Homo sapiens: one gene and its partners. The protein of the gene in region 1 purifies or fractionates together with the protein of each later gene. This does not show direct contact. Each region holds a gene or a part of one and is shown on either strand. Other genes may lie near its edges.

Region 1 (3,500 bases):
GGGGAGCTGACGCAACCTGTCTGCTTGGCTCTAACCCACTTGATCTTTTTGGGCAAGATGTATCAAATCAGTTCACAGCCCTGCCCCCAAACCCTCCCCAGTGTCCGCATTGACTACTGAGCTCATTGGCTTGACTCCCAAGGCCTTTCATGAGCTTCTCTAGCTTCCTTTTCAGCCTTATCTCTCACTCCTCGCCACGCTCCTCACACTGCCTAGCTTTAGCCTCAAAAAATGCCAGGCTTTCTTGCCTTGAGGCCTTTGCACGTGCTCTTCCTTCTTCCGCTTTGCCTCCTAGGTCTTAAGTTGGGCGTCACTGCCTTCTGGAAGCCTCCCTTGAGCTTTTCCTCTACTCCAGCCCTCTTCCTTATTATAGCACCTGTGCTTCCTCCGTCTCCACGCTGATGGTGTGGCGGGTGCCTACTTTTCTTTGTTCCCCACCAGACTGTCTTGAGAAGGGAGACTGCAGCTGTCTATCCAGCAGGGATTCCCAGTGCCCTGCATAGTGCCTTGGCATATAGTAGGTGCTCAATAAGCATGTGTTGAATGAATAAATGAATGACTAAATAGTATGGTGAGAACATGGGACAGTGCCTGTGGATAGATCTGGCCCTGAAAACCCCCCTATGGCCGGTGCTGGTGTGGCAGGCACAAGTGTCAAGCCAACACAGGTGTTTGTTTCCATGACTTGGGGCCTGCTGGTGGCTGGGCTGACTGTGTGGGCGTGTGGTCACTCACACTTCCTGCTGCAGCACTGATGACAGCTTGCCAGGGGCATGCAGGGAGGAGGAGGGTGGGTGGTACAAGGGTGAGAGGTGGGCCAAATGAAGCCAACCAAGCAACAGCCCCCTGGCTTTTGAGGCTGGGACAACCCTGGCTTTGATGTCGCTTGTGACATTTATAGTCCAGTTCTTCAGAGGCTCCTTGTGTTGGGGGGCTTTTAACCTTCCCTGGGCTCTGATCAGGAACTAACAGTGGGAACTTGGTGATGCCTTGAAGAATCTGAGAAGTCTGGACTCTGTCTTGAATCTTGATCCTGACTCAAAGTTTTGCTGACACTGAGATTGCTAAGATCCCAGGTTTGCAGCTTCACCCAAATTTTCTTTTACTCTGGACTATCAATAACCATAGTTAATGTCTACTGAACATCCACGATGTGCCTGCCACTCTTGCCATTCTTAACTTAGAATGTGTCCATGTATTAACTTATTTGATTCGAATAGGTAGCTGCCATTAGCATTCCTATTTTTGGACAGGGATGCCCAGGCTCAGATAGATGAAGTAGCATGTGTTCAGTTACCTAGCTAGTAAGTGGCACAGCCAGGATTCAAACCCAGGCAGGCCAACTCCCTGCTACTCCAACTTGCCATCTTTATGTTCCCTGCACTTGCAATGCCCTTGCTCCCATCCTCCATGTGTTGCCATCCCTCAAGGCTCAGCTCGTAAGCCCTCTACTCTACAGAGGTGTCTTCAATCTTCAGTTAGAATGAATCCCTCCCATAGCGCATGGCTTATGCATATTTTATAGCAGAAGCCTGCCTGGGCAGCAGCTCATCCTTCAGATGGCAAAGTCCTGGAAAGCACAGGCATGTCAATCTCCTCTGCATCCTCTTCAGCACTGCTCCCCTCTCCCCTTCACAGAGAGAGGCCCCAGGCAGGTACTCAATCAAAGTGGAATCAAATTTGTTGAGGAAAAGCTACTGCTCATCTTGATGGAGGCCACTTACAGAGAAAAATGTTGTGCAAGGCTAACTCAGCTCTAGAAACCAGCTCCTGGCTGGGCTCTGGGGAAAGATGTCCCGAGAACAGGCAGATTTCTTCCTGTCAAAGCTGCAGGGCTCACGACCCCAACCAGAGGTCCAGAAAGGGTCCCTCTGAGAGTCTCCCGCTGGAAGCTTCAGCCTTGCTGGCATCTGGCACTTTCTTCACTCCCACCTTCCTTGTAAGCTCTCCTGAGTGCTCTGAGATGCTTGTCCTGCTCTCCACGCAGGAACTCAAATCCATGCAGGGAAGGTTAATAAAAACCACTGGTCAGGTGCTATTGACTATGCCCTCCCTCAGCAACCCCTGCTACCCTCAGCTGACATGAGATGCCTTTGCACTGACTCAAGCCTGGCCTCATGGCTACGGGAGTGGAATAATATTTTGTTTTTCCCTTCATGGGATCCAAGCTCCCTGTCTTCCTCAGAGATTGCATGTTTCAAAATAGTCTTTGGATTACGAATAATTAATAAGAAATATGTCTTTTTCAGAAAGACACTGTTCATCTTCCTAACATCCAAGAAAAACATTCCTATTCTTTTAATAGTAAATTATTTCTAGGAACTCTCTCATCTTCATTTTTTCTATAGCTGGAAATTGGCCAGAAATTTCTGGGTATTACACTTCAAGCCAGTGCAGTTGGCCAGTACTGTAGAAAATGGCACTGGAATGTCCTAATACTGCATTTGATGGTACAGTGTTATCACTTCATTTACAGAGCCAAATACGCCCCTGCTTCCTCCTCCCCTCCCTTTTTTTCCCGTTAAATCAGGAGCCATTTCCCATATTCAAGGCTTTCTGGGATAATATCAGGAAGTGACTGGATGTGACAGAGTGCTGGCTATTCATTAACATAGACTTCCAAGTCCTACATTGAAAGTTACCAGCCTACACTAGCAAAGAAGAGCTAAGAGAGAGCAATGAATATCAAATGGACACACCGTTGCTTACCCCAAAGGTCCCAGGCCATTCACCATACAATACAGCACTTCAAAATCAGTGAGAACCACCATATACATGCAGGATGTCCACACATGCACACGGAGGGGGCATTCCTGGAAAATGGGGTGAGATGATGTTTCTTTCTGTCTCCACTCTCAGGAGCAGTGGAGGACATGGGAAACAGCAGTTCTCCCCACTCTTCCTACTTCCAAACATAGCATGCAGAACAGGGACATTACCTTTGGGGTGGGTGGGAAGCTCTGTTCAGGGACAGGGGAGTTAGTGGGCTTCCCACTGTGGTTCTTTGCCTCCCAGTCCTCCACTGGATTGCCTGTGTCCCCAGTGCGGAAGGGATGGTTGCTCAGTGCTTCTTCCAGCGCCGAGGGCAGTGGGCGGGTGGGAGTGAGGTCTTGGGTGGGAACGGATGGCGGGGGAGGGATGGGAATGGGGGGTGGAGTGCGCTGCACCCATGGAGAGGATGAGGCGCTCACATGGCCAGATAAGGGAAGGACAGGGGGCGCCGGGACCTTGTGGGGTGGGTTGGAGGGTGGAGGGTGGGGCATCACAGGCAAGGCAGAGGGAGTCTTGGGGGGATAGTAGAACATGTCCAAAGGGATGTCGTCCAGGTCAGTGGTGTGCAGGTGCAGTCCGCCTGCGAAGCGTCTCAAGGGTGGGGCCAGGGGAGACACAGAAGGCGGGGGAGGCGGGGGCCCTGTGGTCATCTGGGGGTGTTGCAAGGAAGTTCTGTAATTGTCACTCTGCTTAGAGCTCCACTTCACAATACAGCGAGCACTATGCTC
Region 2 (3,500 bases), on another chromosome or scaffold:
TCTTACACAATAGTTATTCAGGTACTATCACAATTACCATTAAAATATCAGTAGGGATTTAATGCAACAATAGGATGTGGAAGATATTTCTGCTCAGTACTTTAAGACTTACATTTAGCCTAAAAATAGGCTTCCATTTAACATGTAAATGAAAGGCATTATTCCACTCAGCTTGGAGAACAAAATGCTAGGCAGCACAGATTACGTCAGAACATTTTTGAAGATACTTTTTCTTTTTTTTAAGTATCTCACTGTCTCCCAGCCTGGAGTACAGTGGCGTGATCATAGTTCACTGCAGCCTCAAACTCTCAGGCTCAAGCAATCTTCCCACCTCAGCCTCTCAAGCAGCTGGGACCACAGGCACATGCCACCATACCAGGCCATTTTATTTATTTTTTTAAATAGAAACAGGGTCTGCACTGCCCAAGACAGTCTCAAACTCCTAGGCTCAAGTGATCCATCTGCTTCGGCCTCCCACAGTTCTGAGATTATAGGCACGAGACACTACGCCTAGACTAAAGATATTTTCATATTCCTTAGTTATGCAAACTAAAAGATTGTGCAACTGAAAATTCACCTACTAATGTATATATTTGTTCTTGTTTAGACAATAATTACTATATTATGCAAATGGTGTTGACACTGTTAAGCTTTGACAAAGAGTAAATGGGGGGGATATATCTCCTGAAGAGTGAGATTTGTAGCAACAGTTTGTTTCTCCCTCAAGAGAAGAGGGAAAATAGTATTAGGTGAGAAGGTAGCAAGGTAACAGCCTTTATTTTAGATTCACCTGGATGGCAACTATTCCTTCATTCATTTATCATTTATGGAACACTTTAAACTTCTATTACATGCCAAGACACCATTTTAGGCTTTTGGATGTATCCGTGAGCAAAATACAAAGAACTCTCTGCCCTTGGGGAATTCACATTCTAATCTGAGACAAATCTATATATAACATACATAATAAAGCACAACATTAGAGATGATGTTAGGAGGTGTTATGTGCTACAGAACAAACAACAGGATAGGTGGGATTAAAAACCTGTATAAACAGTCTATAGGTTGGGATTATAAACCCTGGAGCTAATCTGTTACAACAGAACCAAATAGAGTATATGAAAATACAAGCTTTCAAAAGTGTCTTATACTCTACTTCCATTCTATTCCTCAGTGTTAGTTATGTCTGAAAACACCAGATGAGAAACGGAAAGAAATGGAATTTTGATGTGCTCAATCAGGCCAATACTTCAGAAATATAGCATCTTATGGATTACTGTTGGAGAAATTCAGAATCAGGATGTCAGAATTCAAGGGGGAAAATAAGAACGTTTGATCAGCCAACTCCTTTTGACCTACACACGTTCTTTCCAGAATCAAAACTAGGGTGACTGGCCTCATAGAATATGTAAAGGGAAAACGACAATAACTAAGGTGCTTTTATGCTCTGTTTTAATAAAGAGATACGCTGTTTTCAACACTCAAAAGTTTTAGCTTTGGGTCCCAATCTCTCTTTTTAAAAAATAAAAAAAGAAAAATAACAAAAAAAAACAAGGCACACAGCAAGGCGCCTAACATCTACTTAGCTCGCGGGCGGATCAGCTGACTTGGCCAGAGGATGTTCCAGTTTCCAGATCAACCTCAACCCGCTCGGCTTCGTCAAGGTCCTTGAGTGGACTGCTTCTATCTTTAGAGTCACCTTGAAGGAAACTATTCCTTCATTCATTTATCATTTATGGAACACTTTAAACTTCTACTACATGCCAAGACACCATTTTAGGCTTTCAGATGTATCGTGAGCAAAATATAAAAAACTCTCTGCCCTTGGGGGATTCACATTCTAATCTGAGACAAATCCATATATGACATACATAATAAAGAAGCACAACATTAGAGATGGTGAGGGTTTAAGGGCCACTTCTGGGGGTTTTAAGGGCCAAATAGAAACTCAAGTGAGTTGTCCTACCACAGTTAGTGAGAATAAAACTATTACAGCTACTTTTGGTTACCCATTCAGGTTGAATGAGGCATCATTTGAGCCACCTCCTGGTGTAAGCGTGTGATGTAAATTGGAAAAGTCACATCCTCCTAACCAATTACTCTTCTTCTGCACAGTTCTATGCTCCCTTTGCAGTCTTTGTGCTCCTGTACTGCACTGATACCCTTCTGCTTTATGCTGGCTACACGAACCTATAGCTGGATAGTTGTAAACTTCCTATGATTGACTTTGTGGTTGGTGAGCACTTCAACCTGGGCTAAAGCTGACAGGTATTAAAAAAAAAAATTTAACATAAGATAGTACTAAAGCATCCCTTATGTGGGGACCTTACCTTCTCAAACCTCTCATCATGTAGGGTCAGCTGTTCATTTCTCCTCATGACTGAGGAAGTCATCGAATACTCCGTGAAGCGACTCTTTGTTTCCTCACTCCAGAACAAGTGATCTGCTATAGCTCTGTGAGTTTTTCCGGGCACAGACATACAGTCTTCATCTGACAATAGGCCTGCAGAGTCATAGTCATCATTGCTATCTCCCTTCTCATCATCCACATCTTCCCACTCGCTGTCATCTTCATTCTCAGATTTCCTAAAGTAAAGGTCATAAATTACCTACCAAAACAACTTAAAAAGTAACAGAACAAAACCACTTTACACAAGTAAAATTGGAAGGTATTTCAGGAAGGGTTCTTGTCTAGGCAGGAAGAGTGAGGGTGTTTGATCAATCTGGTTTGGTAGGAAAAGCAATGAATCTCACATTTTCTGCTCTAAAATACAGAAGTCTCAGATTAAATGCTCTTGAAGGTCTCTTCCAACTGTAACGTTCTATGGTTACCATCCCACTGAAGCAGTAACACTTAGGTCATCATCTCTGCTTTGAAACAAACCACACATACTGTATATCCATTCCCTCTTCCTCTCCTGTTGCCTTATTGGCCTGAAGAATAAAGTCATCCTCAAGCAGATTATCTGGATCATCAAAGTCAAAATCATCATCAAGAGCTGCAACAATGTCAGGATCAAAATCCAGTCGAGGTCCTAGAAGGAAAACAAAAATTAAGCAGTAATTCCCAAGATAGCAACAATTCATTCACTTAACTCACAATATAAGGACCTATGATAGCAAGAGTCTATTAATATATTGAGGATAAAAGAACGATTAAGAACTAAGTTCAGTCTAGTGAAGAATAAAGAATGAACACTCCAAGACAAAAAAAGGAAACAAAATGCTGCCTCAGCCCCAGTCAGGACCTTATAAATAAAACTCCCATCTTCCTGGGACAGAGCACCTGGGGGAAGGGGCGGCTGTGGGCACAGCTTCAGCAGACTCAAACGTTCCTGCCTGCCGGCTCTGAAGAGAGCAGCGGATCTCCCGGCACAGTGCTCAAGCTCTGCTAAGGGACAGACTGCCTCCTCAAGTGGGTCCCTGACCCCTGTGCCTCCTGCCTAGGAGACACCTCCCATCAGGGGTCAATAGACACCTCATAGAGGAGAGCTCTGGTT
Region 3 (3,500 bases), on another chromosome or scaffold:
TTGTGATCCACCCGTCTCGGCCTCTCAAAGTGCTGGGATTACAGGTGTGAATCACCATGCCCGGCTAGAAGAGCTTTATGTTCATGATGCTGAGATGAAGTTGGGGCCAGAAGAAGAGTCAGTTGATAAAAGCTAAAGTATTTTTAGATCCTGATTAAAGAAGAAGGTAATGGGTTGACTTGAGAGAGAATGAGCGTTCTGTTATGGGAATGCTCATATGGGAAATGTTCTGTCTCTTTGTCAAAAACTGCAGGACCACCTGTTGGTGACATTGGAGGAATTCCTGCTTTGTGTGGGAGGGTGAACTAGATGCCTTTAAAAAAAATTTCCCCCCCACAGACTTGTTTTAGATATTTTACTGCTTCAGAGAGGGTCATGTTCACACCATTCTCCCCTTTTGTAATTTTTCACACCTCCCTGGCTCCCCTTTTATAATTTAGAAAGAGGTTTAGAAGTCTGTAACTTTTTGTATTAGATTTACTTTGAGAAATCTTGTACTTAATTTAGTAGGTCACAGAGGGTTGCTGAATGACTGGAAACTTGTGTTTCTTTTCCATTAAGGGCTATTTGCTGACTTCTGAAATATTGATGATTTATTTGACTTTAGAATTTTGCATACTGAGGGGAAAGCATCTTAATGTATCATTTAAAGCAGGAGATACTTTCATACTATACCTGGGTTCTCTTGGCTTTGAAGAGGAGGGTGGTCATGAGATATTGAAAGATTGCATGGGTGGCTTGTAATCCCAGCACTTTGGGAGGCTGAGGCGGGTGGATCATCTGGGGTTAGGAGTTCAAGACCAGCCTGGCCAACACGGGGAAACCACATCTCTACTAAAAATACAAAAATTAGCCAAGTATGGTGGCGCATGCCTGTAATCCCAGCTACTCAGGAGGCAGGAGAATCACTTGAACCCAGGAGGTGGAGGTTGCAGTGAGCCAAGATCGTGCCAGTGCACTCCAGCCTGGGCAACAAAGCGAGACCTTCCCAAAAAAGGAGGACTTCATGGGTAGATATGAGCAATGGTGAGAAGCACCTGGAATATGTCATGGAAGTCCGTGAGATAGTCATGAATGCCATTCTTTCAGCAAATATTCATGGAGTATGCCTACCAGATATGAGGTACTGTTTTAGATGCTGGGTGTAGTCAGAGTCTCTGCCCTCAAGAAATGTGTCACTTATACGATATTTATTATCATTGACTTAATATAGTGACTTAAGGGTAAAGTGCTTTGATGGCAAACTTGAGCTTGAGCAAGCATCAAAACATGGTGGATTTTGTCACTGAGTGGTTTGGCTGTATGGCTAAAGAACCTTGTTTTATTTTATTTTAGTTTTAGTTTTAGTTTTGGAGACAGAGTCTCACTCTATTCCCCAGGCTGGAGTGCAATGGCATGATCTTGGTTCACTGCAACCTCTGCCTCCCGGGTTCAAGCCATTCGCAGGCCTCAGCCTCCCGAGTAACTGGGATTACAGGCACCTGCCACCACACCCAGCTAATTTTTGTCTTTTTAGTAGAGACGGGGTTTCCCCATGTTGGCCAGGCTGGCCTTGAACTCCTGACCTCAGGTGATCCACCTGCCTGGGCCTCCCAAAGTGCTGGGATTACAGGCGTGGGCTACTACGCCTGGCCAAGAACCTTGTTTTAAAAATAGGAAGATTTTTGTCGTCTGGAATTTAGTATCTCAGAGAATAATTCTGTTTGTTTCTCAGTGAGGTTAGTTTGTGCAGTAATATGAAATGTGATCTTGTTTGGTTATTCAGGAGAAGACCTTAAAAATAGAAGTAACCTTAATTGGTAGACATTTCTAATTGGTAGACTTCAGTTTTAATTTTCAGGACACTTGAAATTGACAGCATCAGTGACAAGTTACCTTGGCTCTTGCCCTTAATCCCAGTATTTTAGGAGACCGAGGCAGGAGGATTGGTTGAGCCCCAGGAGTTTGAGACCAGCCAGGGCAACATAGTGAGAGCTCATCTCTACAAGAAAAAATTAGCCAGGTGTGGTGGTGCACGCCTGTGGCCCCAGCTATTCAGGTGGCTTAGGTGGGAGAATTGCTGGAGCCTGGGAGGTTGAGGCTGCAGTGAGCGGAAATTGTGCCACTGGACTCCAGCCTGGGTGACAGAGCTGAGACTCTGTCTCAAAAAAAAAAAAAAATCATAATCCTCATTCATCAAGCATTTATTGATGACTGGTATATACAAGGCACTGCTGTCTATTGTGGCGGATGTGAAGTGTATTTAACACTCCTGTCTTTAAAGAGTTTGGCTTTGTGTGTGTGTGTGTGTGTGTGTGTGTGTGTGTGTGTGTTTGGAACAGGGTCTCACTGTGTCACCTAGGCTGGAGGGCAGTGGCACAATCATAGCTCACTGCAGCTTCAACCTCCTGGGCTCAAGTGATCCTCCCGCCTCAGCCTCCTGAGTAATTGGGACTACAGGCATGTGCCACTGTGCCTGGATAATTTTTAAAAAATTTTTTGTAGGCCAGGCGCGGTGGCTCACGCTTGTAATCCCTGCACTTTGGGAGGCCGAGGCGGGCGGATCACGAGGTCAGGAGTTTGAGACCGTCCTGGCTAACACAGCGACACCCCCTCTCTACTAAAAATACAAAAAAATTTAGCTGGGTGTGGTGGCGGGTGCCTGTAGTCGCAGCTACTCGGAAGGCTGAGGCAGGAGAATACTTGAACCCGGGAGGTGGCGCTTGCAGTGAGCTGAGATCGTGCCACTGCACTCCAGCCTGGGCGACAGAGTGAGACTCTCTCAAAACAAAACAAACAAACAAAAAATACATACATAAATACATTTTTTTCTTTTGTAGAGACTGGGTCTTGCTGTGTTGCCTAGTCTGACCTTGAACTCCTGGGCTCAAGTGATGCTTTTGCCTTGTGCTCCCAAAGTGCTGGGATTACAGATGTGAGCCATTGTTCCCGGCTGATTTTGTATTTATCATTATAATACAAAGTAGAGGATATGTGCTCTGCATGTGGCATAGCAATGTAAGTATCAAGTGGAATTAAGGAGTAAAGGTGAAGTGGAAAAGTATTTCTCTGCCTAGTAGAAGAATATTGCATTGGGTTTCAAATAGATAATTTGCCCTAAAATGTTGTGTGCAGATCATATTTTTTATAAATTTTTAAATTTGTTGCCTTGTATTTCTAATTTCAGAAATGCTTTATTTTTATTTCTGATTGAGCGTAAGATGTCCACTGCTCTTTTAGCATTTTTCTCAACTTTTCAGCTTCTCTGCCAGTTGGTAATTTGTAAATTGAGAAATATTTTGTGTCATCAATTCTATTTTATTTATTTATTTATTTGAGACGGAGTCTCACTCTGTCGCCCAGGCTGGAGTGCAGTGGCTCGATCTCAGCACACTGCAACCTCTGCCTCCTGGGTTCAAGCAGTTCTCTGCCTCAGACTCCAGAGTGGCTGGGACTGCAGGCACATGCCACCACGCCCGGCTAATTTTTGTATTTTTTAGTAGAGATGGGGTTTCACTGTA

What was found. The genes of interacting proteins can lie anywhere in the genome.
Region 2: the proteins of USH1C (region 1) and LTV1 purify together in Homo sapiens (affinity purification with mass spectrometry; one large-scale study listed by BioGRID and IntAct). This does not show direct contact.
Region 3: the proteins of USH1C (region 1) and WDR20 purify together in Homo sapiens (affinity purification with mass spectrometry; one large-scale study listed by BioGRID and IntAct). This does not show direct contact.

Annotation. Positions count from the first base shown.
Region 1 is NC_000011.10:17,506,417-17,509,916, forward strand, and holds part of USH1C (harmonin), read right to left. Parts: intron 3,423-3,500; coding exon 2,940-3,422; intron 2,814-2,939; coding exon of another isoform or gene 2,706-2,813; exon of another isoform or gene 1-2,705. UniProt on the Homo sapiens protein: Anchoring/scaffolding protein that is a part of the functional network formed by USH1C, USH1G, CDH23 and MYO7A that mediates mechanotransduction in cochlear hair cells. Required for normal development and maintenance of cochlear hair cell bundles.
Region 2 is NC_000006.12:143,856,838-143,860,337, reverse strand, and holds part of LTV1 (protein LTV1 homolog), read right to left. Parts: intron 3,036-3,500; coding exon 2,894-3,035; exon of another isoform or gene 2,757-2,893; coding exon of another isoform or gene 2,755-2,756; intron 2,587-2,754; coding exon 2,331-2,586; intron 1-2,330. UniProt on the Homo sapiens protein: Essential for ribosome biogenesis.
Region 3 is NC_000014.9:102,146,397-102,149,896, forward strand, and holds part of WDR20 (WD repeat-containing protein 20), read left to right. Parts: intron 1-3,500. UniProt on the Homo sapiens protein: Regulator of deubiquitinating complexes. Activates deubiquitinating activity of complexes containing USP12. Anchors at the base of the ubiquitin-contacting loop of USP12 and remotely modulates the catalytic center of the enzyme.